Homo sapiens: one gene and its partners. The protein of the gene in region 7 interacts with the protein of the main gene of each other region in a pairwise test. Each region holds a gene or a part of one and is shown on either strand. Other genes may lie near its edges.

What was found.
Region 1: the proteins of NECAB2 (region 7) and SMARCA2 interact in a two-hybrid assay, tested with the Homo sapiens proteins (one large-scale study listed by BioGRID and IntAct).
Region 2: the proteins of NECAB2 (region 7) and CPEB2 interact in a two-hybrid assay, tested with the Homo sapiens proteins (one study listed by BioGRID).
Region 3: the proteins of NECAB2 (region 7) and GTPBP10 interact in a two-hybrid assay, tested with the Homo sapiens proteins (one large-scale study listed by BioGRID).
Region 4: the proteins of NECAB2 (region 7) and CCNK interact in a two-hybrid assay, tested with the Homo sapiens proteins (one large-scale study listed by BioGRID).
Region 5: the proteins of NECAB2 (region 7) and EAF2 interact in a two-hybrid assay, tested with the Homo sapiens proteins (one large-scale study listed by BioGRID and IntAct).
Region 6: the proteins of NECAB2 (region 7) and DFFA interact in a two-hybrid assay, tested with the Homo sapiens proteins (one large-scale study listed by BioGRID).

Annotation. Positions count from the first base shown.
Region 1 is NC_000009.12:2,189,847-2,193,346, reverse strand, and holds part of SMARCA2 (SWI/SNF-related matrix-associated actin-dependent regulator of chromatin subfamily A member 2), read right to left. Parts: intron 2,082-3,500; coding exon 1,939-2,081; intron 644-1,938; coding exon 608-643; 3' UTR 1-607. UniProt on the Homo sapiens protein: ATPase involved in transcriptional activation and repression of select genes by chromatin remodeling (alteration of DNA-nucleosome topology).
Region 2 is NC_000004.12:15,061,481-15,064,980, reverse strand, and holds part of CPEB2 (cytoplasmic polyadenylation element-binding protein 2), read right to left. Parts: intron 2,903-3,500; coding exon 2,721-2,902; intron 1-2,720. UniProt on the Homo sapiens protein: May play a role in translational regulation of stored mRNAs in transcriptionally inactive haploid spermatids. Binds to poly(U) RNA oligomers. Required for cell cycle progression, specifically for the transition from metaphase to anaphase.
Region 3 is NC_000007.14:90,377,716-90,381,215, reverse strand, and holds part of GTPBP10 (GTP-binding protein 10), read right to left. Parts: intron 3,083-3,500; coding exon 3,005-3,082; intron 1-3,004. UniProt on the Homo sapiens protein: May be involved in the ribosome maturation process. Complements an ObgE(CgtA) function in E.coli ribosome maturation. Plays a role of GTPase in vitro. When missing, disorganization of the nucleolar architecture is observed.
Region 4 is NC_000014.9:99,491,409-99,494,908, reverse strand, and holds part of CCNK (cyclin-K), read right to left. Parts: intron 2,964-3,500; exon of another isoform or gene 2,589-2,963; intron 2,284-2,588; 5' UTR 2,232-2,283; coding exon 2,035-2,231; intron 1,396-2,034; coding exon 1,314-1,395; intron 1-1,313. UniProt on the Homo sapiens protein: Regulatory subunit of cyclin-dependent kinases that mediates activation of target kinases.
Region 5 is NC_000003.12:121,869,709-121,873,208, reverse strand, and holds part of EAF2 (ELL-associated factor 2), read right to left. Parts: intron 673-3,500; coding exon 421-672; intron 221-420; coding exon of another isoform or gene 165-220; exon of another isoform or gene 143-164; intron 1-142. UniProt on the Homo sapiens protein: Acts as a transcriptional transactivator of TCEA1 elongation activity. Acts as a transcriptional transactivator of ELL and ELL2 elongation activities. Potent inducer of apoptosis in prostatic and non-prostatic cell lines.
Region 6 is NC_000001.11:10,466,030-10,469,529, forward strand, and holds part of DFFA (DNA fragmentation factor subunit alpha), read right to left. Parts: intron 3,310-3,500; coding exon 3,148-3,309; intron 1,304-3,147; coding exon 1,161-1,303; intron 1-1,160. UniProt on the Homo sapiens protein: Inhibitor of the caspase-activated DNase (DFF40).
Region 7 is NC_000016.10:83,999,244-84,003,276, forward strand, and holds the end of NECAB2 (N-terminal EF-hand calcium-binding protein 2), read left to right. Parts: intron 1-1,480; coding exon 1,481-1,558; intron 1,559-2,581; coding exon 2,582-2,673; intron 2,674-3,074; coding exon 3,075-3,103; 3' UTR 3,104-3,533; downstream 3,534-4,033. UniProt on the Homo sapiens protein: May act as a signaling scaffold protein that senses intracellular calcium.

The DNA of each region.
Region 1 (3,500 bases), on a different chromosome or scaffold from region 7:
AATGTTTACAGTAGACATAAATCTTATACAATTCAAAAAGCTTTTGTTCAGATCATAGAGCATAAAATGGAAAAATGTATATGCAGGTGAAATCTAACTACTGTACATTTATCACCTATTAAAGTTGCTTATATGTACCACAGTGTAAAAAAACAATACCGAACAAATAAAAACCTCGAAAATTGCCTGATGAAAAATAAAATAACCAGTGGCTTTTAATGGCTTCTCCTGGTTATCAGTGCTACAAAAGACAAAAATCTTCTCATCTGAACAGGTGATAAAACCAGGCACAATCAAACCGTTACCAAATTAGACCCACCCATAGAAATATACTATCCACCCACATATTTTCCATCAAAAGCTTTTTGTTTGTTTCAATCTGAATCTTTGAGGCCCATTTGGTCACAATATGTTACAAATATTTGTGTATGTGTGTGTTTTTTACACCATGATATCATATGTTTGTCTGGCACTATCCTAAAGCTAGTTTATAGACGATGATGATATAGAAACAACCCAGTGCCTATATGACAAATGAACTCACTGGGTAGAAATGAGACAGGGGAGGAAGGAATTCAGTTCTACCAAGGAAAAAGGTCCATACTGATCACTCATCATCCGTCCCACTTCCTTCTGACTGTTCCTAAAAGTAAAAATAAGAAGATAAAATGAAGTAACATCACATGCAAGAAAAAGAAGATATAACAACAAACCATCAAGAGGCCAGTAGGAAAAAATGACATTTTGGAAACAACTCGCCAAATCTCTTTCCGTGGGAGGACAGAAACACATTAAAGAGGCATCGACAGTCTCTAAGCTGAGAAGTTTTTCTTACTGAAAAACCCCAAAGCAAAGCCCACCCTCTAAGCTATTGTTTGTGCCCTTTCACTTTGGCTTGAAAGGTTTATGGCTAATATTTTCTCTTTTTCAGCCCCAGGTTTTAGAAAATTCATGGGAGAAAAAAAAATACCCTGCATTTGACATCTCCTAAAGAAAAATGTATTTGAAAATGCTTGCATCAAGGGTTAAGGCTGGGGTGAGATCATAATTCTGAAATTTTACCAAAATGGTAATGTGTTGAAGGAAAATCAAACTAGGAAAAGGGAAATTTATCTTTCCAGAAAGAAAATAATGTGGGTGCCAGGAAACCATCCTCTGGAAAGTGAATGGATGAAATGAAGGGTATTTCAAAAGGCAAGGTATTAGGAGCTTCTGCCCACTCTTCTACCTTGCTGCCCAGTCAGACATAGCACACTAGACTGAGTTATGCTACTCGGGTCCGAATTCCACCTCTGCGACGTGATCTGTAGCAAAACACCCATAACCTAACCATTTCCATAACATGTTATTTGAGAGTGACATCTATCTCACGATGCCGACATCAGTATTTAATATGCTACCACACAGGGAGGTACCTATTACAAGGCCTGGCTCAATAGATGCTCACTGAATTTTTCAAATATGAAAAATAACACCCCTAGGTACTTAAAAAGTCCTTTGAGTTTTTACATGGTCCCTTAAGTAGCAACTCGAGCCAATAACTCTGACGTCATAACAGTTTTTCTCATTCTTCCATCTAATCTACTGTTATGTACCAGGCACCATGCTGGCTGTGATGCATGTAAAATATTAACTGGCTACGGGGAAAACCATATTTATAAGAAAGCATGTGGGAAGATTAAAAAGGGGGAAAGGGAAGCTTGATTTGGTAGTTTTTCATTTTTGAAGACTATTAAAAAGGCAATAAACAAAGCCCCCAATCCTTTGTTCTAAATCATACAGCTCCGTTCACATCCCTCAATAATGAAATCTCACTAAATCCTGACATTTCCAGTCCTGGGTAATAAAGCGAAAAGGCTGAAGGGGCATGGAAATGCAAGAGGCCAGCAAGCAGGGGAGAGGGCGTCTCCGCCTTCAGTCCCAGTCGGCTACACTTACACGTTCATCCTGCTCCTCATCGCTGTCAAAATCGCTCACTACAGGTTTGGCTTTTCCTCGATTTGGCCTTTTCTTGCCTTTCCCTTTGTCCCGGCCTTTGTCATCTTTTTTATTGAGCTTAATTTTCACCTTGACTGATTTTGCTAAAACCAAAGCAAATGAAATAGACACCAGTGAGTAATCACAAGGAGATCTTTGTATAGGTGGTAAGACTATCACCAACCTACAGACAACACAAACATCCCAGAGTGCCCAGAACATTCCCGGTTTATGCCTGTTCTGTGTGGTTCTGTCTAGTCAGCGACCCCTTTCACTTGCCAACCTGTCTTCTTTTGGAAGATAAATGATGTAGTCACGCTAAACAGGCAACAAGAGGGACCGAGGTCTCATGGAGGACAGTGGGGCTGGATCCTTCACCTGTCTCCCAATGGCTGACCAAGGATAATGAGGGGAAGTGTTTTCTACTTGTGGAGGTGTTGGGCAATCATTTAATAGAACTTTTACATTAAAAATATAAATAAATGTAAAGAGTTTAAAGGCCAATAATTTTACCATGTAGATAACTCCATTGACTTAAAAAGAAAATTCAAATAGTTCAATCATATTTTTAACATAAAGGTACAAAATGGAAAGTAAAAAGAAAACACTTTTGAATGCTTCCTTTCCCCCATTCCTAGTCTCTTTCCCTATAACTAATTATTTCCAGGAAAAAAAATGTTTATGTCCATACCTGCAAGTACATCCATTTCTCTCTCTCTGTGTGTATGTGTGTGTGTGTGATTCTACATATTCTATAAAAGTCTCTCTATAGAATATAAAGAATTCAAGTAAGTATATATACACACGTACATACTTGAATTCTTTATGTAGTTATCCCAAAGGGATCTTTATACATGTCCATATTCTCCACTTGGCTGTTTACTCACATATGTGGGATATTTATAGGTAAAGCCTCATACATACCTGCCTAATTCTTTTAAATACCTGAAAATTTTCCATCGTATGGTATACTATAATTTATTTAATCAGTCTCATATGATGAGGGCTGAAGTTTGCTGCTTTTTTTGCTAGTATAAACAAAGCTGCTGTGAACCTATTTCAATGTATCTTGGTAGAATTTGAGGGAGGTATGGTGGACATGTCCATATGGTAAATTTCTAACAGTGCTCTGTCAGATTAGCCTTCAGAAAGACTGCACCCATTTCCACCTTCACAGGACTATTCTGGGGATACCAATGGAAACACTTGGAAGAGTTCAAGGTACAATATCACAAATATAGGTACATATCCCAAAGAACAAAGACAATCTGCTCCATGGTAGCTATTTGGGATAGGTATCCACAGAATACCATTTTTGGTATTTGATGATGAAGGCACTGAAAATGTGGGTCTCTCATTCAAGCTAGCTTTGCTAGACTACCATGTTTGGTGGGTCTCAAGGCATCTAGAAATAGATGTTGTCATAGAGGGAATCCTAGCTCCAGAAGGAGATGAGAGTGTTTGTTTCAGACTTCTTTTGTGAAGTAGAGGGACCCACAAAATATTTCCAAAACTAAAATCTC
Region 2 (3,500 bases), on a different chromosome or scaffold from region 7:
TTTGCATATTTTCTTGCTGGAGTTTTGTTTGTTTTTTAAATTGATTTATGAGTTCTCTTTTGTCAGTTAAGAGTTTTTAACCTTTTTTCCAGTGGCTTTACAATCTTTAACACAAATTTTTAAAATTGTTATGCTTAATTTTTATCTCTCAACTTTTTCCTTTATGGGAACATTATTACAAACAAAGAATAAATTAAGGTAGCATGAGAGTTAACTGGATTTCATCTCACTGAATTATAAACTCCATGAACACTGGGACAGCACCCATTTGCTCAACATTCAGTTCCCAGTGCCTAGAAGAATATCTAGCACGAAGTAGAAATGCTATAAATATATGCATAAATGCAATACATTTACATATGTTTTCTGGGTTTCTTTCTCATGGTTATTTCTTTTTTTTTAAAATAAGATTTTAGACAGATTGAAACCAGGGTCTGTGATGTTTACTTCACTTCCATAATACCTGATAAAACACCAGATGTTCAGGAGTTACATTTTAATATAAAACTGTTGAATGAAAATTTCACAAATGCAATGATTTCAATTATTTGTATTTTTAAAATTCTAGATATTAGTTTTATGAAGCTAACCTACTTTACTCAAAACCAGACTTTAAAGATGGAAAATTGAATTTCAAAACCTATTTTTCATTAATAATCTCTAATAATTAAACTCTTCTATATGCAAAAGGAAGTTTCATTAACACTACACTTCACCTAGTCTTATTTTCTAACATTTACTAGAAGTCACAGTGAATTATACTACTTATGAAATAACATACAAAAAAATATAATGAATTACACATCTGTGGTGACTGCTTTCCAGCTATCAGATAGGAACTAAACCACAGTATCCATGAGTCTAAAAAGTTAAGTGGAATAAACAATTTTCATTCCCGCCAAATAAGTATCCCGTGTATCTCTGGGTTGGCAGTTATACACGTATATTTATTCAATTTTTATGGTTTAATAACCATATTCATATTGGAGAGATGAAAGGTATAAAGGTTAATGGTTTAATATTTCTTTGTATAAGCAATATTAGTGACTTGTAAAATATTTAAGGCTCAAATTCTTTCAAATACAGTTCAAAATTACCTTTGTAGCACATATCTTAGAAAATAAGCTTTTCCCTCAGGTATTTCAATGCCTTTTTAAGAAGGCACATGTATCTCAATTCATCTGCTCTGCAACTGAGTTGCTCTTTAAGAGTCAGTACTCTGCTCCAAATAATCGGTCCTTCACTATAATTTCAGAAACAAAGAGGTATGAGGTATGACACTGTAACAGTCTTTTTCTTCTGGTAGTGTATATTAAATACCATGATTACATACTATGTAAATAACGTCGTCTGTGACCTATCACCTCTCTGTTAGCGGTCTAAACCACTGCTGTACATTTGTGTCACTTCCGGAGCTTTATAACCAATTCAGCAGAACCTCAGGGGGTAGGACCCAAATGTCAAGATTTTTCTAAGTTCCCAGGTGAATAATGTACAGCAGAGGTTGAGAAACACAACACTACAGGAACTCTTAATGTTCAGACAAGTTCAGAAAAGTTACGTATGCGTGTCTTGTCAAAAGCAGAGCACCTCCTCTTAGTTTTTTTTTTTTGGCAACCTTTTAAGTAGCAATGCAAACAAACAAAAAAAACCTACTCTGCATTTGTGAACTGAACCTATGCTGCATTTCTTTTCTAAATGAGACGGTTGGGTAATTACATTGAGGACTACTTCTAGCATGCATGGTCTAGTCAATCGGTATTAATTAACCAGCTTCCCTGTCCCCAAAATAGTCTTTTAATGTGCCAAACAGCCCCAGAAGAGGCTTGAAGAAACTGTTATATTGGGGAAAAGGAGTACCCACTCAAATTGTATCTTCTATCTACTAATTCAGATATAAAAAATTCATTTACCCGCATATTCTTAATGTATTTCTGCTATACTATAATTATAAACATGATTATTTTATAATATATTTAGCTATGTATAGGAACTGTTCACAGATTTTGGCATAAAATAGATTTGTAAATGAATGCTAGTGTCTTTCCCTATTTTAGAAGGTAGTCAGTACTTGGAATTATTCAGTAGGGGTTTCAGTTATCATTCCTAGTACTTCTTACAAGTTCTTATTGTGATGATTCAAGCAATGCTACTAAAAAAATTTTAAGTTTAGGTCAATTATTTTAGAGAAATACACACAATGCATTTTTATTTTAGATTTTGTGACAAATGAAAACAAACATTTAAATAACACTCTCCGTCAAGTTCTATTCTAAGTGCTTATATATATGTAAATTCATTTAATCCTCAAAATTACTGAGAAAGACATGTTATCATTGTTTTCTATTTTACAAGTGAGGAAAAAGAGGCATACAGAAGGTTAATTTGTAGAAATGGGGTTCAATCCCAGGCAGTCTGACTCCAATGTACAGGCTCTTAAAACAACCTCTGCCTCCACGGTTAGAATATTTGACCTTACTGGCTGATTAAAAAATTTTGACATGGCTGCACAATGATATTAATATTTTTACATTATATCTAAAGTTTAAAGTGTGTTCAGTAATTTTCCATTTCAAGGATATTTTTATATAATATCCTTTAAGACTTACAGAAGTATAAAAATTAAAGTGTTCAAATTATATTATTAACTCGTTAGGGTATGAGGCTTTGGATCAGCACCTTATTATAGGACATAAGTGATTTCCCAATATGCAACTTACACGTTTATCAATATCACCATGCTGAAGCTGAACAAACCGAGCACTAATGGCAGCAATATAGCTCTGCTGATTGGAGAAAGCAACTCGCCCAGCACCTTTTGGGTATTTTAGCTCAGGATCTGTATCAATTCCTGCATAACAAACTCCACCATACAGCCGGTCCATGATCATAGCAAGTTCCACTTGAAAAGGAAAAGAAGTTTACATCAAATGTGAGAGAACACAGTAATCAACAATTTTTAAGTACTTTTTGTAAAACGTAAAAGTCAATAGTATATTATCATTTGACCAGGAGTAGAATGGCAGATAAGAGGCTGTTGTTAAAAAAGGACGGGGATCGAGGATGCTTTTTTTAAACTATAAAGTGACTCACCACCATCACATCTACCTACTTACAGCACTAAACCCACTATATACTCTATCTTCTGTCCTATAGAGAAATAGTTCCATGCTCTTTCCTAAATCCAATCCTTTCACTTGCATACTAGATCCCATACACTCTCACTTAGGACACTGCTTCAGCAATTCTCCCCTTTCCCTTCTATACAATCAATTTTCCCAAGTACACTATAATTTTCCTATCTTAAAAAAAATTCCCATAACACTTTTTCTCCCTCTCAGCTACTGCTCCATTTCTCTGTTCCCCTTTACAACCAAATTTCTCAAAATCTGTTCCAGTATTCCCCCCAATTCCTCTCCTCCCTTTCTCTTTATTCAACTCTTTTTCTAACCAGACTATCACACCATGACTCCACTATAATTGTTCAAGCCAAGTCCAAT
Region 3 (3,500 bases), on a different chromosome or scaffold from region 7:
AAGCAGTATAAAGATTTCTCAAAAAATTAAAAATAGAACTACCATATGATCCGGCAATCCCACTTCTGGGTATATATCCAAAGGAAATAAAATCAGTATGTCAAAGAGATCTCTGCATTCCCATTTTTACTGAAACATTATTCACAATAGCCGAGACATGGAATCAACCTCAGTGTCCATCAATGGATGAATAACGAAAATGTGGTATACACACACACAACTGAATATTATTCAGCCTTAAAAAAAGAAAATCTTGTCGTTTATAACAACATGGATGAACCTGGAGAACACTATGCTAAGTGAAATAAGCCAAGCACAGAAAAAAAAATACTGCATAATCCCACTTATATGTGGAATCTTAAAAGGTTGAATTCATAGTAGCAGAGAAAATGGTGGTTGCCAGGGTGCTTGGGGGAGGAAGATGGAGGGGTGTTGGTCAAATGGAACAAAGATTCAATTAAATAGGATGAATAAGCCCTGAAGATCTATTTTACAGTATGATGACTATAGTTAATGTATTATATATTTGAAAATTGCTAAAACAGATTTTAAATATTCTCAACACACATAAAATAGTATGTAAGATGATGGATCATGTTAATTAGCTTGATTCAATCATTTCACAAGGTAAACATATATCCAAATATCACTTGTACACTTTAAGTACACACAATTTTTATGTCAATTACACTTTAATAAAACTGGAAAATTAAATAAATAAATAATAGTTTTGTGCCACAAAGAATACAGAAAAAATACACTGAAAAAGTGAAAAGACAAGTCACAGAAGGGGAGAAAATATTTTCAAATTATGTATCTTAGAAGGGACTTAATTTCCAGCTGGGCATGGTGGCTCACGTCTGTAATCCCAGCACTCTGGGAAGCCAGGTGGGCGGATCACCTGAGGTCAGGAGTTCAAGACCAGCCTGGCCAACATGGTGAAACCCTGTTTCTACTAAAAATACAAAAATTAGATGGGCGTGGTGGCACATGCCTGTAATCCCAGCTACTGGGGAGGCTGAGGCTGGAGAATCACTTGAACTTGGGAGGTGGGGGTTGCATTAAGCCGAGACTGTGCCACCGCACTCCAGCCCAGGCGACAGAGTGAGACTCCATCTCAAAAAAAAAAAAAAAAAAAAAAGAGAAGGGACTTATTTCCAAAAATACAAAACATGCTTATAACTCAACAATTAAAAGACAAATAATACAAATAGTAATGCACACAGAATCTGAACAGACTTTTCTCCAAAGACACAGAAATGCCTAATAAGCACATAAAAAGATTCTTAGCATCATTAGTCTTAAGAGAAATGCAAATAAGAACTATAACAAAATACCACTGCACTCCCACTAGGATGACTAAAGTAAAAACGACAGACAATAACAAGTGTTGACATTCATGTGGAAAAATTGGAACATACATTGATGGTGGGACTGTAAAATGGCACAATGGTGCTACCAATTCAGAATAGTTTGGCAGTTCCTCAAAATGTTAAACAAAGCATTATTATCTGATCCAGCAATTCCACTCCTAAGTATACATCCAAGAGAAATGAAAACATGTCTATACAAAAACCTGCATACAAATGTTCACAGCAGTATTATTCATTATAGACAAAAAGTGGCAAATGAAATAGGATCTATAAAATCCTGGAGGTAAGGCAATACCATGTTGTCTTAGAGAGAAATCACATGGCTGAAATATAGCATCTAGGGGAGAGGGTTACAGAGGAGGACTGCTAGGTAGGGGCCTAAACTTGCAGATTTCATAAATCATGCTCAGGTTAGACTTTAACCTAACAGCTATGGGGGTCTATCAAAGTGTTTTAGGCAGGGAACATCAGCATCAGCTTGGTGCTTTTACAAAGATCACTCTAGCTGCCATATAAAAAATGGACTGGAGAGAAGCAAGGCAGGACACAGGGAGAATGGAAAGGACCAGATTCAATATTCCAATAAGAAGGGCTGATGATTATAACAGCGTAGATAAAGACAAGAGGATGGATTTCAGAGAGATTTAGGATAAAAAACTGACAGGGCTTGTGTAGGTGGTGAGAAGAATCAGTATATCATAGCTTACACATTCACTAAGTTATGGGGATGGCCGAAAAGTTTTTTAAAAGTTTACTTTTATCCATATTAAGTTTAAGTGACTAATGGGACATCTAGTCAAAGAAGATGTCCGATGGGCATCTGGTCTAAAGAACAACAAAGGCCAGGTGCAATGGCCCACACCTGTAATCCCAACACTCTGGGAGGCCAAGGTGGGTGGATTACCTGTGGTCAGGTGTTTGAGACCAGCCTGGCCAACATGGTGAAACCCTGTCTCTACTAAAAATACAAAAATTAGCCGGGCGTGGTGGCACACGCTTGTAATCCCAGCTACTCGGGAGGCTGAGGCAGGAGAATCACTTGAGCCCGGGAGACAGAGAGAGCCGAGATCATGCCACTGCACTACAGCCTGGCAGACAGAGCAAGACTCTGTCTCAAAAAAAAAGAAAGAACAATGAAAAGATTTAGGTATCAGCTACAGATCTGGCAGTCATCAATATTATTAATTGTAACTAAAGCAACGGGAGTGAGTAAGATAGAAAATAAGGTTAGGACAGAACTCTGAATAATGTTACTTAAAGGATGAGAAAAAAGAGCCTAAAAAGTAGACGGAGAAATAGTGTAAGAGTAGAAATAGAACCAGAAGATTACCGGTCACAAAACTAAGAATGAGAAACAAGAGGAATTAAACAATGTGCCAAAGCTGAAGCAAGATAAAAACCTGGGAAGTATGTAATGGGGATTTGGAAGCCCAGGAGTGTTTTATCCACTGCAGTAGTTTGAGGAGCAAATGAATGTAGAGGAAATGGAGACAACAAGTTTAAGTAATTCTTTAACTGACATCAAAGCTTTAAAGGTGGAGTATGTATAGACTGTAATTATGTTATTTCATATAGTCTTACATTCCTATGTATTAGACCAAATACAGAACACAGTAAAACAGAAAACCTACTTTTGTAAGCAGTATTATGGTTTCAAAAGCTGTCCTGTATTGAGTGTGAGAAGAAAGCTGAAATCCAGAAATATCAACCTAAAAAAAAGAGAAGGAAAGAGACAGCCTTTAACATACGAAGAATAGCTATACATTTCTATGTTTTAAAATGTTTTACTCTCTCAAGCTAAAAACAATTTCTCTATACTCTACTTGTTACTTAGTAATTCAAAATAAGTAACAGAAATCGAGGTGTTAAGATAACTTTAATTATTCTGATAAAATTACAGTTATTAATAAAATAAAAAACTAGGATAAGACAATTTGTATGAAGACAATCTCATATATAACTCTAGCATCATCAGTGAAGAATGAAAGAGATACTATGATACTATATAATATGGTAGTATGCTGGAAATCTTAAGGAAATACATGTTGGCAAGTATGGCCAAACTTACATATGATATAGTAAACAATGTCACTTCCATCCCCATATTATAAAAGACTTAGTGGAGTA
Region 4 (3,500 bases), on a different chromosome or scaffold from region 7:
CAAGGGGCTTGTTCCTCCCTTCCACCATTTGAGGATGCGGCAAGGAGCCCTTTTATGAGGAACAAACCCTTACCAGACACAGAATCTGCCAGCACCTTGATCTTACACCTCCCAGTCTCTACAACTGTGAAGAGTTAAGTTTCTGTTGTGTGTAAATTATTGGGTCTAAGGCATATTGTTATAGCAGCCTGAATGGATGAAGAAACTGTCCCTCCAGTTGCCTCAACCTTAGCTCAGTCCCTATATCACTGGGGTCTGAACTGCTCTGTCTTCAGCTTCTCTTTGCCCACTCCAATCCTTCCTACATGCCACTCTCCTCACATAATCCTGATCACACTAGATGTCAGACACTCTGCCGGGGGTACAAAACTGATTCCAACATGGTCTCCTTCTTCAAGAACTTCACAACCAGTGAGGAAGGCATGTATATAAATCTAACTAAAATCTTAGCTAACAAATCAACACAATGACTTTAATGTTAAGTCTGTCATTTTCACGAAACCTTTTAATTACTGCATTGTTCACCCACTGAAGCCAAATTTCTGAAGTCTGGCATTCGAGGCTTATCGTGGTCTGACCCAGTCTACCTATCCACCCAGGGTCTCATCATTTCCTTCCTGCCAAATCAAGCTCCTGGCTGGGCTGACAATGTGTCACATGGTTCCCCCTGCCTCTGCTTATGCTAGCTTCTGTTGGACCACTGACCTAGCCCATCACGGCATGGCTATGCCCTATGTACGTTTAAGGCTTACCTTAATGCTGGCACCTTCTTCCTAGCACTTTCCCTGCTCTCTCCAAGATGTAAGTTGTCTCCTCCTTGAATGCCACAACTCTTTTATCAGTATCTTCTGATGGCCTCACTTTCCATCACGTGTTCTGTGCATGTCATACCACTTATCCTGGACTGAAAGCTACTCTATCTCCCACAGAGAGTAAGACACAATGCACGTCTTGAGGAGTAACCGAAGAATGAGTGATATGGCATAGACAACTTCTGTTCCATTTTGCTTTCTTGGTCTTTGTTGAGTCTCAATTATAAGCCCAAATTTATGCTGGGAAAGGTACCACGGGAGTAAACTTTCATACAAAGCGCAATATGACTATGGTCCATATTGGCCTAAGTGAAAAGATTTGAACATGGCTAATTGGAATAAAAAAAGTTCAAACTTGATTTTGTTTATATGCAGTATATACCATATAAAAATAAATACTTTCTGGAAAATATGAGAAAAATAGAGCTTATAATTAGTCCACCAAACTGTGTGGAAATAATAACATATGACAGAGAATTACAATAAAATTCAAACACTTACATATCTTGGGAATTGCTTGAAGGAATGAAACATATAGAAGCGATGAAAATAAATTATTCCAGTTGCCAGGGTATCATAGTGTCTGTTGTTCTGGTTAAGGACTCTAACCAATAACTTTTACAGGTTATACTCTTAGTTAAATGTAGAAAAACAAAAAGACAAACAACAACAACAAAATCAATGGTAAAGTAAACAATATTAGTGGCAAAGTAATGAGATGGGAATCTCAGGGTGTCAGAATTCTGGTACAAGAATTAGCAAGCTGAAGTTTTATACTTTTAACACCCTTTAGAAACACTTCAACTATGATCTTTTTTTTTTTGAGACAGCATCTCTGTCACCCAGGCTAGAGTGCAGTGGTGTGATCTTGGCTCACTGCAGCCCAGGTTGGTCTCGAACTCCAGATTTCAAGGGATGCTCCTGTCTAGGCCTCCCAAAGTGCTGGGATTACAGGCATGAGCCACTGTGCCCAGCCTCAACTGTGATCCTAATGGGTGCCTCATATCCTCCTGGCTGGCCACCTCCTCAGTGGCTAAGTCTACACCTTTAAAATGACAAATCAGAAAGAGAAAAACCCCCACCAGAAACAACATTCAAACAGATATTTAAGAACTGCTCTGGTACAGAGAAATTACTATATATTTTGTCTACAGAATCTAATTATTTCTTGGTGGTGAGTGGGGAGCCTATCTGTAACAGATTCCAAGGAGAGTCAGGATACAGCCCCAAACGTGTGCCCACATCAAAGATGAACCGAGCGCCCTCTCGGCGGTACCGGGCCTCGGTGGCTGGATCAAGTCCTTCAAGTTGTGAGGGTGTATGAGCCAAGTCTTTCTTATCCCAGTACCAACATGGCTTTGTGTGGTCCAGGTTTGCTGAAGTTACTGAAGGGCTTGAATTTTCTTTATTCTCCTTCATTTATTGAAGTAGGCTTGTTCTTTCCAAAAGGTTCTCTGAAAATGTTAGAATCCTATGAGAAAGAGAAAAACAAAGTTGGAAAGGAATACTCCATACTATAAGCAATCTAGAATCATAGATTGTACCTGGTTTGGGATCACTATTTCCTATAGAAACCACACTGTCAATTGCCAGTTACAAGCCCGGGCTAACTCCAGAGCCAATTTAACACAATACTGTAAGATGACCCCAGTACTAATATTAATAAATCTCAAATTTCATGGTAGTTTAAAAATAAGACTATTTCCTCCCTCTCTCTTGAGATTAAAGGGTTAACCTTATTTGACAAAGTTTTGGAAGAAACGAAGTATATCTCACTTTCTTCTGGTTTTTCTTCACTAGACATACAGGTCCTCTAACGCTGGTCCAGATTCCATTCTTCAGCAAAACCTGGGCCTGTCTTAATCTTGACAAAGATTTATGTTCTAAAACTAACCATCTCTTCCATCCAGCACCCCTTTTCAGTTTATTCCATGTAGGCACTTTCACTTAGACAAGTCATGGGATTGGGTTAATTCACATCTGCACAAATCACTGAATTCACTGATGTAAACCAAATGTGCATCTTGTGATTTGGGGAGTGGGTGGATGGAAGTGGTCCATGAGAGAAGGAGCTCCTTTAAACTGTTCTTGCTTTTTCATCCTCTTCCTTTTCTTTCACTCAGAATAAAGACACTCTCCAAAAGCTCCATGCTGAGAGAAAGAAAGAAAGAAAAAAACAACAACAACGAAGGATCTCATCTAGAGACCACTGTTAGAAATAAGTCATTTGTAACCTGGATCAGAGACAGCAGATACTTTCAAATAAGGTATCAAAAGGGTTCTGAAAGAGCTGGCTGGAGCCAGGTTAGTCTGGTTAGCAAGAAAACAGCAGCTCTGTGGCCAGGTTCTGGGCCAGGGCTCCCACCAGTTCATCTGGAAACCTAACCTTTTCTGTGTATCTGCCTCATTTCTGGTGGGGAAGGTGACATGGTGGGGCTGAATATTCTCCTCCTTGCACCTGGTAGCTCTGAAGGAAATCTGATCTTCCCTCCAAGAGGAAGAATTAAGTACCTGGAGAAAAGCTTGAACTAATAATTTACATTTTTGTGTGTGACTGATTAAATTGGGCACTGTTCAAAGGGCGGGGGAGACCAGTTAATTAAAACCTCAGAAAATATGACCTGTTCATAATCAGACATCACACTGAGATACAATTCTCACCTACTGGATTGGCAAAAATCCCAAAGT
Region 5 (3,500 bases), on a different chromosome or scaffold from region 7:
AACATGTGTCTAAAGCCTAGAGGTTTGAATCAGAGATATAAATTTGCAAGTTACCTACACATAAGTATTGACTGCAACAGAAACATGGAGGAAGTTATTTAGGGAGAAATTGTAGAATGAAAAGAAAAAAAGAACCCAAAAGTAAGCCTTGAGAAACTCCAACTTTAATGACTGAGCAGAGGATCATATAAACTTGAAAAGGAGTGAGAGGAAAGATTATCTAGAGAGATGGGAGAAAAACCAAGAAGGCATTATGTCACAGATTCAAAAGAAAACCATAATTCAATAAAAATGTAATTATTAATAGTATCAAATGCATAAAATAGGAATCTTTTTCTTTATCCAAATATTAGGTCACAATCAATATGGCTCCACTATAAATTCTTACTTTTCCAATTGCCTGTGTTTATGTATACTTACTTAAAGTATTCATCAGAAGGCCACTGTTGTCTCGAAATCTATTATGACTGGCATCTATATCAGGAATCCTGTACTGTGTCATGGTAGGATGTCCTGAGACACAATTCCCTGTATCAGAAGTAGAGGATTTGCAATCTTCATCTTCTGAGTCACTAGAACTATCCTCACTACTTGAAGATGATGAACTTTTGGAATCTGATGAACTATCACAACTACTCATCTGGTCCATTAGACTAGCTTCTGCCTTCAGTTCTGAAAATAAGACAGAAATGAATAGATAGGTTAAATAAAAAATGCTAAATAAATATAATAAAAATTGAATGTATTAGTTTTTAAGAAACTGTTGAAACTAAAATCAAACATACATTTACAGTACTTGAAGCATTTTATTAAAAAACAAAACTCTTCTACCATCAAGCCATACTTCAATGATTGGATTACAGAAACTAAAAGGGATAGACAAGGTCTAAATCTAAACTCCACATTTATTTAAACCATTGTACTTAAGTATACAGGTAACTCAAATATAAAGTAAATACTGTGAAAAACTATAAAAATTAAAATCTATTTTGGCAGAAACTGTCTTCTGATTATTTTTTGTTCCTTTAAATACATATAATATAATGTGATAATGTAACAGATGAACTTCATTCTTTTCCTGGTTTTCCTAGAGAACATTTTGATGAAGCATCTATAGGTTTCCCCCCTGCTCCCTTAATAAGGATTTAAAATATTCTAAGTATTTTTGAAGAGCCAGTTCCCATTATAACTTTGGCTATAAATATTTCTGTAGATAAAAAGAATAATAATGATGTCTTCTTTTGTTTAGCATTTTTCAAGTTCTAGATACACAAAAAAATTATAGTTGGGAAGGTCTTCAGCTACCATTTAGAACAACTTCATAATTTTATAAATGAGGGAATGAAGATCCAGAAATGTCAAAAGCTGTCAGTTATTTATGAGTGGAGGCAAATCTACTGACTTTTAAGTCAATATTTTCCCATATGATACAAATGTCAAATAGTTGAACAAAATTTTTTAAACCAAAAAATGCTAAGTGAATAATACACTCAGTTAACACATTGACATTTGATATCATCTTAGTACACTGCTACATTAAGTTAACTGGTAATTTTTAGCCCACTTCCTCATTCTCCCTATTATAGACACACTGGCTTTCTATTATTTGACCACATTAAATCCATTTCCAGGCTATGTTCTTCGTACTAGCTGTTTCCTCTGCCTGGTATATTCTTCACCCAGATCTTTTGTTTGTTTGTTTAATACATAATTTCCATAAAGTAAAATGTACAGCTAGATAAATTTTAGCATGTATAAAACCTGTATATCTACCACTGAGATCAATATATAGAATATTTCCATTCCCATGAATATTCTCCTATGCTCTTTTCCAGTCACTAATCACCATTTTGACTTTTATTACCAAAGATTTTTGTCTATTCGTCTATTCTTGAACTTCATACAAATAGATTCACTCAGCATGTACTTTTTGGTCTGCCTTCTTTCAACATAATGTTTTTATATTTACTCATGTTATTGAATTAATCTGTAGCCTATTCTTCTCTACTGCTATGATATTATATTATATTATATTATATAAATATACCACAAGTTAGTTACCCATTTTCTACTTATGGATATTTGGGTTGTTTTCAGTTTTTGATATTATTAATAAAGTTGTTATGAAAATCCCTTTACAAGTCTTTTTGAACTTATATACACATTTCTCTTAGGTAGAAAGAGAGAAATTGCCAAGTCACAATAGGCATAGGTTTAATTTCATTAAAAACTCCCAGTTTTCAAACTGATTTTACACTCCAACCAGCAAGGTATGAGTCACAGATGCTTCATATCTTCCCTCACTAGGGCACACACACACTTGGTATAGTGAGTCTGAAGGGTGTACAATGGTATCTTCTTGTAGTTTTAATTTTCATTTCTTTGATGTGATAATATGAAGCAGTGTTTTTTTATATGCTTACTGGCCATTTGAATATCTTTTTTGAAAAGCCTGTTCAAATCTTTTGTCCATTTTTATATTTGTTTGTCTTTTTCTTACTGATTTGTAAGAGTTCTTTATAGCTAATTCTTCTGGCTATGAGCCCTTTGTCACACTTTTGGCATTTGTGAATATTTTTTCCAGGTTCCCCCAAGTCTGTAGCTAGGCTTTTCATTTCATTAATGGTGTCTCTTGAGAAGATTCTAGATCTCTGAAAGGCTGGCTCCTTCTTGAATCGGTTTAAGTGTAACCTTCTCAAAAGTTTCCTTCTTCTCCATTCTCCAACCCCCATTGCTTAGTTTAATTCTCTTCAAGACACTTATTTCTGAAATTCATTTGGATACTTATTTGTTTACTGCTTGTATCTTCCCTACCCTCCCTCTCACCCTCATCCATACTCCTAAATAAAATGTGAGAATAGCAATGTTGTCTTGTTCATGTTGCATAATTATTGTTATACAATGTTGGATTCAATTTGCTAATATTTCATTGATAATTTTTGAGTTTAAGTTCATCAGAGATATTGGTTCATAGTTTTCCTTTTCTTGTACTGTCTTTATCTGGTTTGGGTATTAGGGGTAATACTGGCCTCATAAATGAGCTTAGAAATATTCCTTCCTTTTCCTTTTTCCAGAAGAGATTGTGTAATGTTGGTGTTAATTCTCTTTAAATGTTTGGTAGACTTCTTGGTCTGGCTATTTTTGGGGTGGGTGCTTTTTAATTACTAATTTAATTTATTTAATATTGATAGCACTATTCAAGTTGCTTACTTCGCCTTAGTTGAGTTTTGGCAGTTTTTAGCTTTTGAGGAACTAGTCCATTTCCTCTAAACTGTCAAATTTATGAGCACAAAGCTATCATATTTCTTTTCTCTTCTTTTTAGATAGGGTCTTACTCTGTCACCCAGGCTGGAGTGCAGTGGCACAATTATGGCTCACTGCAGCCTCAACCTCTTGGGCTCAAGCAATCCACTCACCTCAGCCTCCTGAGTAGCTGGGACTACTCAGGTGCACACCACCACGCCTGACTGCCTGAGTAATCTAAAAAAAAAATTTTTTTT
Region 6 (3,500 bases), on a different chromosome or scaffold from region 7:
CTCAGCTACCTGAGAGGTTGAGGTGGGAGGATGGCTTGAGCCCAGGAAGTCGAGGATGCAGTGAGCTATGATCATGCCACTGCACTGGGTGACAAAGCAAGACCCTGTCTCAAAGAGAAATTTTCTTTGAATGAAAACATACTGTTTTTATCCCAATCTTTTTTTTCTTTTTGAGATGGAGTCTCTCTCTGTCACCCAGGCTGGAGTGCAGTGGTGCGATCTCGGCTCACTGCAAGCTCCACCTCCTGGGTTCAGGCGATTCTTCTGCCTCAGCATCCCGAGTAGCTGGGACTACAGGTACAGGTGCACACCACCAGGCCCGGCTAATTTTTTGTATTTTTAGTAGAGATGGGGTTTTACCATGTTAGCCAGGATGGTCTCGATCTCCTGACCTCGTGATCTGCCCGCCTCGGCCTCCCAAAGTGCTGAGATTACAGGCGTGAGCCACTGCACCTGGCCTATCCCAATCTTACTAGAGAGAAAACACAAGGAGAGAAGCTAAGCTACTGGCTCAAAGTCGTGGTGACAGCGCTGGGATGTGAAGCCATCTACTCCAACGCTACATTCTCTAGCAGGGCATCCCTGACCCCAGCGTCCACCTAACTAGGTTTAGGGTGGATCCCAGGCATTTGTATTAAAAAAAAAATCTGGCCGGGCACGGTGGCTCACGCCTATAATCTCAGCACTTTGGGAGGCTGAGGCAGGTGGATCACTTGAACTCAGGAGCAGCCTGGCCAACATGATGAAACGCTGTCTCTACTAAAAATACCAAAATTAGCCAGGCGTGTTGGTGTGCACCTGTAATTCCAGCTACCTGGGACGCTGAGACAGGAGAATTGCTTGAACCCGGGAGGTGGAGACTGCAGTGAGCTGAGATTGCACCACTGCACTCCAGCCTGGGCGACAGAGTAAGACTGTGTCTCAAAAAAAAAAAAAAAAAAAAAAAAAAATCCACAGGTAATTCTGCTTCGTGACGAGGGTTGAAAAATTACTCTAGGTGAGAATGAGAAGATGAAAAATCTTAGTTGTAATTTAAGAATTATTTAAAAATTAAGATTAAAACAAAGAAATTGCTATGGCAAGTATGGAAGCTAAGAAGGTGCTGGGGCGGGGGGCAGAGGCTGGATGAACATTGTTGCAGGTTGTGGAGGAGGCTTTACCTGGAGGTCCTCCTCTGATAGGAGGATGATGCTGGACAGATCTTCTTTCAGCTGCCTGGCCACATTCTTCCACTTCAACCCTGCCCCGCTGTCTGTTTCATCTACATCAAAGGACTCTTGGGAAATCCAAGCTGTACCTCCATCTGACACATGGGAGAAAATGCCAGTCACAGAACAACCTGAAGTGCTGTTTTCACCTCCTCCCCCAGCACACACAGACCTCTTGAGGATCTAGATTAATTTCAATGGGAAAGAAGCATCTTATCTCAAGGATTCACAGGAGGGTCAATATCCATCCAGGACCTTGATTTTCCCTCTTCTTTCATTTTTTTTTTTTTTGAGACAGAGTCTCACTCTGTTGCCCAGGCTGGAGTGCAGTGGCACGATCTTGGCTCACTGCAACCTCCACTGCCCGAGTTCAAGCGATTCTCCTGCCTCAGCCTTGCAAGTAGCTGGGATTACAGGTGCCCACCACCATGACCAGCTAATTTTGGTATTTTTAGTAGAGACGGGCTTTCACCATGTTGGCCAGGCTGGTCTCAAACTCCTGACTTCAAGTGATCTGCCCACCTCGGTCTCCCAAAGTGCTGGGATTACAGGCATAAGCCACCGTGCCTGACCCTCTTTCATCTTTATCTCTGTGTGCAACGGCTCTGTATTCTTCCATAGAAAAAGCCATTTAAACCCAATGTGTGGTCACACCTACAAGGAATCCAATCACACTTCCCTTTCTGGTTTCTGTGTGTCCAGGTGTGTCCTGTTTTTTATACGAAAACGGTCATTTGTGCCAGCATTTCTCTGTGCTTGGGGATTGGTCCCTTCTTTAACTGGCAGAGCTGTAGCCATCGATTGCTGTCCCTTAGGCCTGAGCACAAAGGTGGCTGGTAGGGCCACTGCTGTAGGATGACTTCCTCAATTTTGTGGCACACTTCAGGACACTTTTTTTTTTTTTAAGTCCCTCCCTAAAACTAATCCCCTCTCAAGACACTTCTTGATCCTTGGTCACCAATGTTAGTCCCCTTTCTATCTCCTGTGATGATGATGATGGCAGGGACAGGTAACAATTATTGAGTCCTTAACTATGTGCCAGGTAAGATCTAAACACTTCATATCAGTGGTTCTCAAGTGGGAGCAATTTTGCCCCCCAGGAGACATCTGACAATATCTGGAGTCATTTATTCTTGGTTATCACAGTTGTGGGGGGAGGTTCGTAACATCTAGGATGCTACTAAACGTCCTATCATACACAAAGCATCCTCTTCACAACTCCAGCCCCAAATGTCAGCAGTGTCATTGAGAAACCCTGGTTTGATATGTACTATATTATCTTTACAACAATCTTAGGGGACAGGTTCTATAATTATTATGTCAACAAGGCACTGAGAAGTTATGTAATTTGCACAAGGTCACCTGGTTAGTAAATGGTAGAGCCAGGATCCAGACCTCAACAGCTGGACTGCAGCCTGCAGCACTGAGCTCCCTGCCAGGCTGCATTTCAGTTGCTGTCTGTCCATGAGTTAGTTGAGAACTGGGCCCATGTCTCATTCATCTATTTTTTTTTTTTTTTGAGACAGAGTCTCGTTCTGTCGCCCAGGCTGGAGTGCAGTGGCACAATCTCAGCTCACTGCAACCTCCACCTCCCAGGTTCAAGCAATTCTCCCGCCTCAGCCTCCCAAGTATCTGGGATTACAGGTGCCTGCCACCATGCTCAGCTAGTTTTTGTATTTTCAGTAGAGATGGACTTTCGCCATGTTGGCCAGGCTGGTCTCAAACTCCTGAGCTCAGGTGATCTGCCCACCGTGCCTGGCCTCATTCATCTTTATCCCCAGGACTCAGCACCATGTCTGGCACATAGAAAGTGCTCAGTAAATATCTGTTGAACAAATGCTTAAAAAGCCAGACAAATGGCAATTGTCTGTGCAGTGAAAGTAATCATGATGGATGCTGTACTGCATAGGCCGTTTTATACATGGCTAGAGTTTCTTACCTGAATTGTTGTATGCCCATTTCTCATTACTAGCCAATGCCACAAACTTAGTATTGGAAGGTAGACACAGAAAGTAATCGTCATCATCCACTATGGTGCCATCCTCTGCCAGGACCAGGGTGACTGGTGTCAGGGACTTATCAATGGCCAGAATGTCACAGGCTGAAAAGAATAAAATATTTGGCAAATGACAAATAACCGTAAGGAAATTACATCTATCCCTGCATCTCAAGTATGTATGGCTCCAGAGCTGAGCAGAACTCCTGGTAGGTAATAACTAGAATCACAATCATCACTTCTAGCACTACCAGAACACTCATCACGTGCCTGATTCTGTTCTAAGTGTTCTTTTC
Region 7 (4,033 bases):
CCATTCTTGAGTAAGTAGCCAGGATGGGGGGGCAGGACCCACTCCACTCCAGGAGGACAGACTGCACAGGAGCAGGGGCCAGACTTGATCTTTTTCCATTACGTGAATAAGTGGGAGGCTCCAGGGTGAAGTAGGGCCACCCCGATGCGCTGTGGAGAGGAGGCACGGTGGACGTAGAGGCTCTGGTTTGTCGAGTTGGAGACGGCAAGCCTGGAGAGCCAGGTGAGATTCTACTTCCCAGGCATGGTGCACCTAAAGCTGCACGGAGGTGTGTCCACCCCAAGATGGAATCCAGCCCGGCCCCTTCCTCTAGGCTGAGCACTGTAGCCCCTCCTCCCCAGCTTTTGGCCCCCGCTTTATGGTCACTTGGGGCTTCCTCATTGTAGTGCACTTGCAGAGAGGATTCTGGGGCGGCATAGACTATCAGCACCTTTAAAATGACGTGAGTGCGGGCCCCTGGGTCCCATAGAGCAATGGGGGACTTGCCTGCAGCCCCTTCCTCTGTGGCCCAGCACCCCCTCCCCTCAGCCTCCTTTGGTCAGGTCAGGTACAGTGCAGTGGGGGTGTTGCAAGGATTAAATGAGAGGACAAGTAGAAGGAAGAAGAGGGAAGATGCTTTGATTTTTAAAGGTTTTTTGATTTTTAAAGGTTTTTTGAGACCAAATCTTGCTTTATTGTCCAGGCAGGAGTGAGTGTGTAGTAGTGGAAGCTCAGCTCACTGCAACCTCTCACCAGAGGGTTTAAATGAGTCTCATGCCTCAGTGTCCTGCATCGCTGGGATTACAGGGATGTGCCACCAGGCCCAGCAAGTTTTATTTTTTTTTTTTTTAAAGAGACAGTGTTTTGCCATGTTGGCTAGGCTGGTCTTGAACTCCTGACCTCACGTAATCCACCTGCCTCGACCCCTCAAGACTTCCCAAAGTTCTGCGATTACAGGCGTGAACCATCACATCCAGCCACCTGGTTTTGTTTAAATAAATGTTCACACTTTAACATGACATTTCAGCTGGGCACAGTGGCTGAAGTTTGCAATCCTGGCACTTTGGGAAGCCAAGGTGAGAAGACAGCCTGAGCCCAGGAGTTAAAGACCAGCATGGGGAACATAGCAAGACCCCATCTCTATTGGGACAGTTTTTGAATTAGGCCGAGTGGTGCACTCCTCTAGTCCCCGCTACTTGGAAGGCTGAAGTGATTGTGCCACTGCACTCCAGCCTGGGCAACAGAGTGAGACCCTATCTCAAAAGAAAAACTACACTGCATTGATTCTATTTAATAAATAGCTGTTGGCCACTATAAGAAGCCAGGCCTTATTCCCTGTGCTGGGGTCACCCTGTCGAGTCTCGATGGAGGTCAAGACAGGAAGAAACATTGAAGGCAGCCGTTGTGTATAGTGGTGGGTCTCAGGCCACCCCAGGGGAACAGCACTGAGGTGGCCTTGGTTGAGCTCCAGCCTCCTCCCCCCGACCATCTCCTGTTGCAGCATCACTGCCGTGAGGCTCTCAGATGGCTTCACCTTTGTCATCTATGAGTTCTGGGAGACAGAGGAGGCGTGGAAGAGGTGAGATGCTGGGTCCCCACAGCAGGTGAGGGAGACAGAGGGAAGTGGGGGGGCTGTCTTCCTGGAGCCAGGCATCCTTGGAGGGGAGGGTAAGGCCGAGTCCAGTCAGCAGATTCCCGAGGCATCTACCCGCTGGCATGCTTGCGTCAGTAAACCCTGGTGGAGGCAGGAGCTCTTGGTGGGTAGTGAGAGCCCCCACCACACTCAGCTGGGCTTTCCTGCTTTCCCCAGGGTTGCTTCTGTGCCCCTAGAGCACCTTGTCCTCCTGGAACAGCCCTGGGGGCCGAGGCACTGCCTTCTTTACCACCCTGTAGAGTTGAGGGCCTAACCTAGAAGGTGACTCAGTCCCCATGTGATCAATTGTTCCAGCGACTAACCTCCCCTCCAGCTGAGTGCCCGGTACGAGGGACGGAGATGGGGTAGGGTGTCAGCAGCTCTGATGGGCCTTAGGCCTTTGTCCTCTGCTCAGCACACATCTGGGAGAGGGTGGAGACTATTGCTGATGCGCCAGACCCCACAGGCAGGAAGCGGGGCCTAGGGGTAGCCCATGCCCCCATCTCCTGCTTCCCTGGTAAACACTCACGGTTTGCTGACAAACTCAGGACCCCAGTGGGAACAGGGGCGGTCATGAGAAGTGAGAGTGTCCCCTCCCTGTCCGTACTTCAGTGACTCATAAAACGAGGGACTAAAAGCCTTCGCAGCTTCTGTGTTGTCATGGGTCCCAGGCAGAGGATGGCCCCACTCCTCCTGCTAGGGTAAAGGGGGAGGTAGAGGCTCTGTGCAATGAGTGGGGGGATCCCGCTGCCCATTTATAGCTCACAGGGAAAAAGAGAAGCTCACTGCCCACCCCAGAGTCAGCCTCCCTGGGCACCCCCTCACCTTCCCACAAAGGCTCTGAGTCCAAAGACCCCCCGTGCTTATTGATAAGCTCCCCATTTTGGGCTAGAGCTAGGATTAACAGGGGAGCCACACGCGGAGCTCCACTCCTGCCACCCCTGACTCACACATGTCCCTGCGTCACAGGCACCTGCAGAGCCCCCTGTGTAAGGCGTTCCGGCACGTCAAGGTGGACACACTGAGCCAGCCTGAGGCCCTCTCCAGGATCTTGGTGCCAGGTAGGGGGCAAAGGCCTGGAACTGCAGTGGCCACCTGACTGGAGAGAAGGGCAAGAGCCTAGAGGCTGCCCCATATCTCCCGGGGACTTGCCTGCTTGCTGTGGGCCCACTGTCAGCTCCTGCCACCAATGCCAGGCTCAGAGCCAGCCCTGAGGTGGCCCCACATACAGGTATGCCTGCCAGAGCTTGCACCAGAGCACCCCCTCCACGGCCCCCTACTTCCAGCCAGACTGAATTTCCCTTCCCAGGTGTGTGGTTTGCACCTGGGTGACCAGCAAGGACCTGTGTGTCACACAAGGACTCAAAGCCATCCCCCGACCTGTCATTCAAGACGACCACCACCAGCTACGAGGCTGCCCACATTCGCACTCCTTCCCTCTAACGTGTCTCTCTCCTTTTAGCTGCTTGGTGCACGGTGGGACGGGACTGACAGCCTCCCAGAGGCCCGTGGAGGAGCCCACCAGCCCCTTCTTCTTGTGAAGGAAATCCCGTTTTTTTCTAGACAGACACTTTGGTGCAGAAGCTTCTTTTCAATCCATCCTCCACAAGAAGGTGTTTCCCTGTTGTTAAGTGAAGGAGGCCGCCCCTGCCCCCACCTGAGAAGGCAGAGCAGTGTCTGTGCTGCCAGGTCCTGGTGAAGCCCAAGGTTGAAGGGGGCGGCTTCCTGGAGCCAGCACCCCTGCCTCCTGGTCCTGGCCTCTCCCCTACCCCTCACATGGCCACGCATGACCCACACTGACCACACCCTGCCCTCTTCGGTGACATTCTTCTACCTAGTAGGAGTCATGCCCCTGTAGTGCCCAACCTAGCCAGGTAGCCACCACTGTGCCCAGGCGCCAAATAAACCCTGGTTGGGAAGAGCTGTGTGCTCTGTGTCTGTTTCCTGGTTGACAACAGCAGGGGGCCAGGGACCCTTCAAGTGCTCCCAGCCTCAGTTTTCTGAACCATGAAATGGTGGTGGTCACTCTATGCGGTATTTGGGAACTAGGCTCATGCCTATTCAGGAGCTCAGCACCACACCTACCCTCAGGTCAGTAATTCAAAGGACTGGGCACAACTGTCAAAGTCACGGTCAAGGTAGGTAGATGACAGACAGACAGACAAAATCCAGCAAAGAAAGAGGCTCCCGGAGTGGGGGGCCAGGCACGGGGCTACCAGTAAAGGCCCATAGCACTGAACCCTCCCAGCTTCAATGCTGATAGAGCATCACCAATCAGGGATGCAGTCCTGAGTCTTACTGGGGTTCGGTGACGCATACACGCTGACACCTCATGGCTCAACACCCCACCATAAATCACATGGTTGGCCCAGACCACGCAGTGTGGCTCAACACAGACACTGTCACCAGGCAGGACGCTCC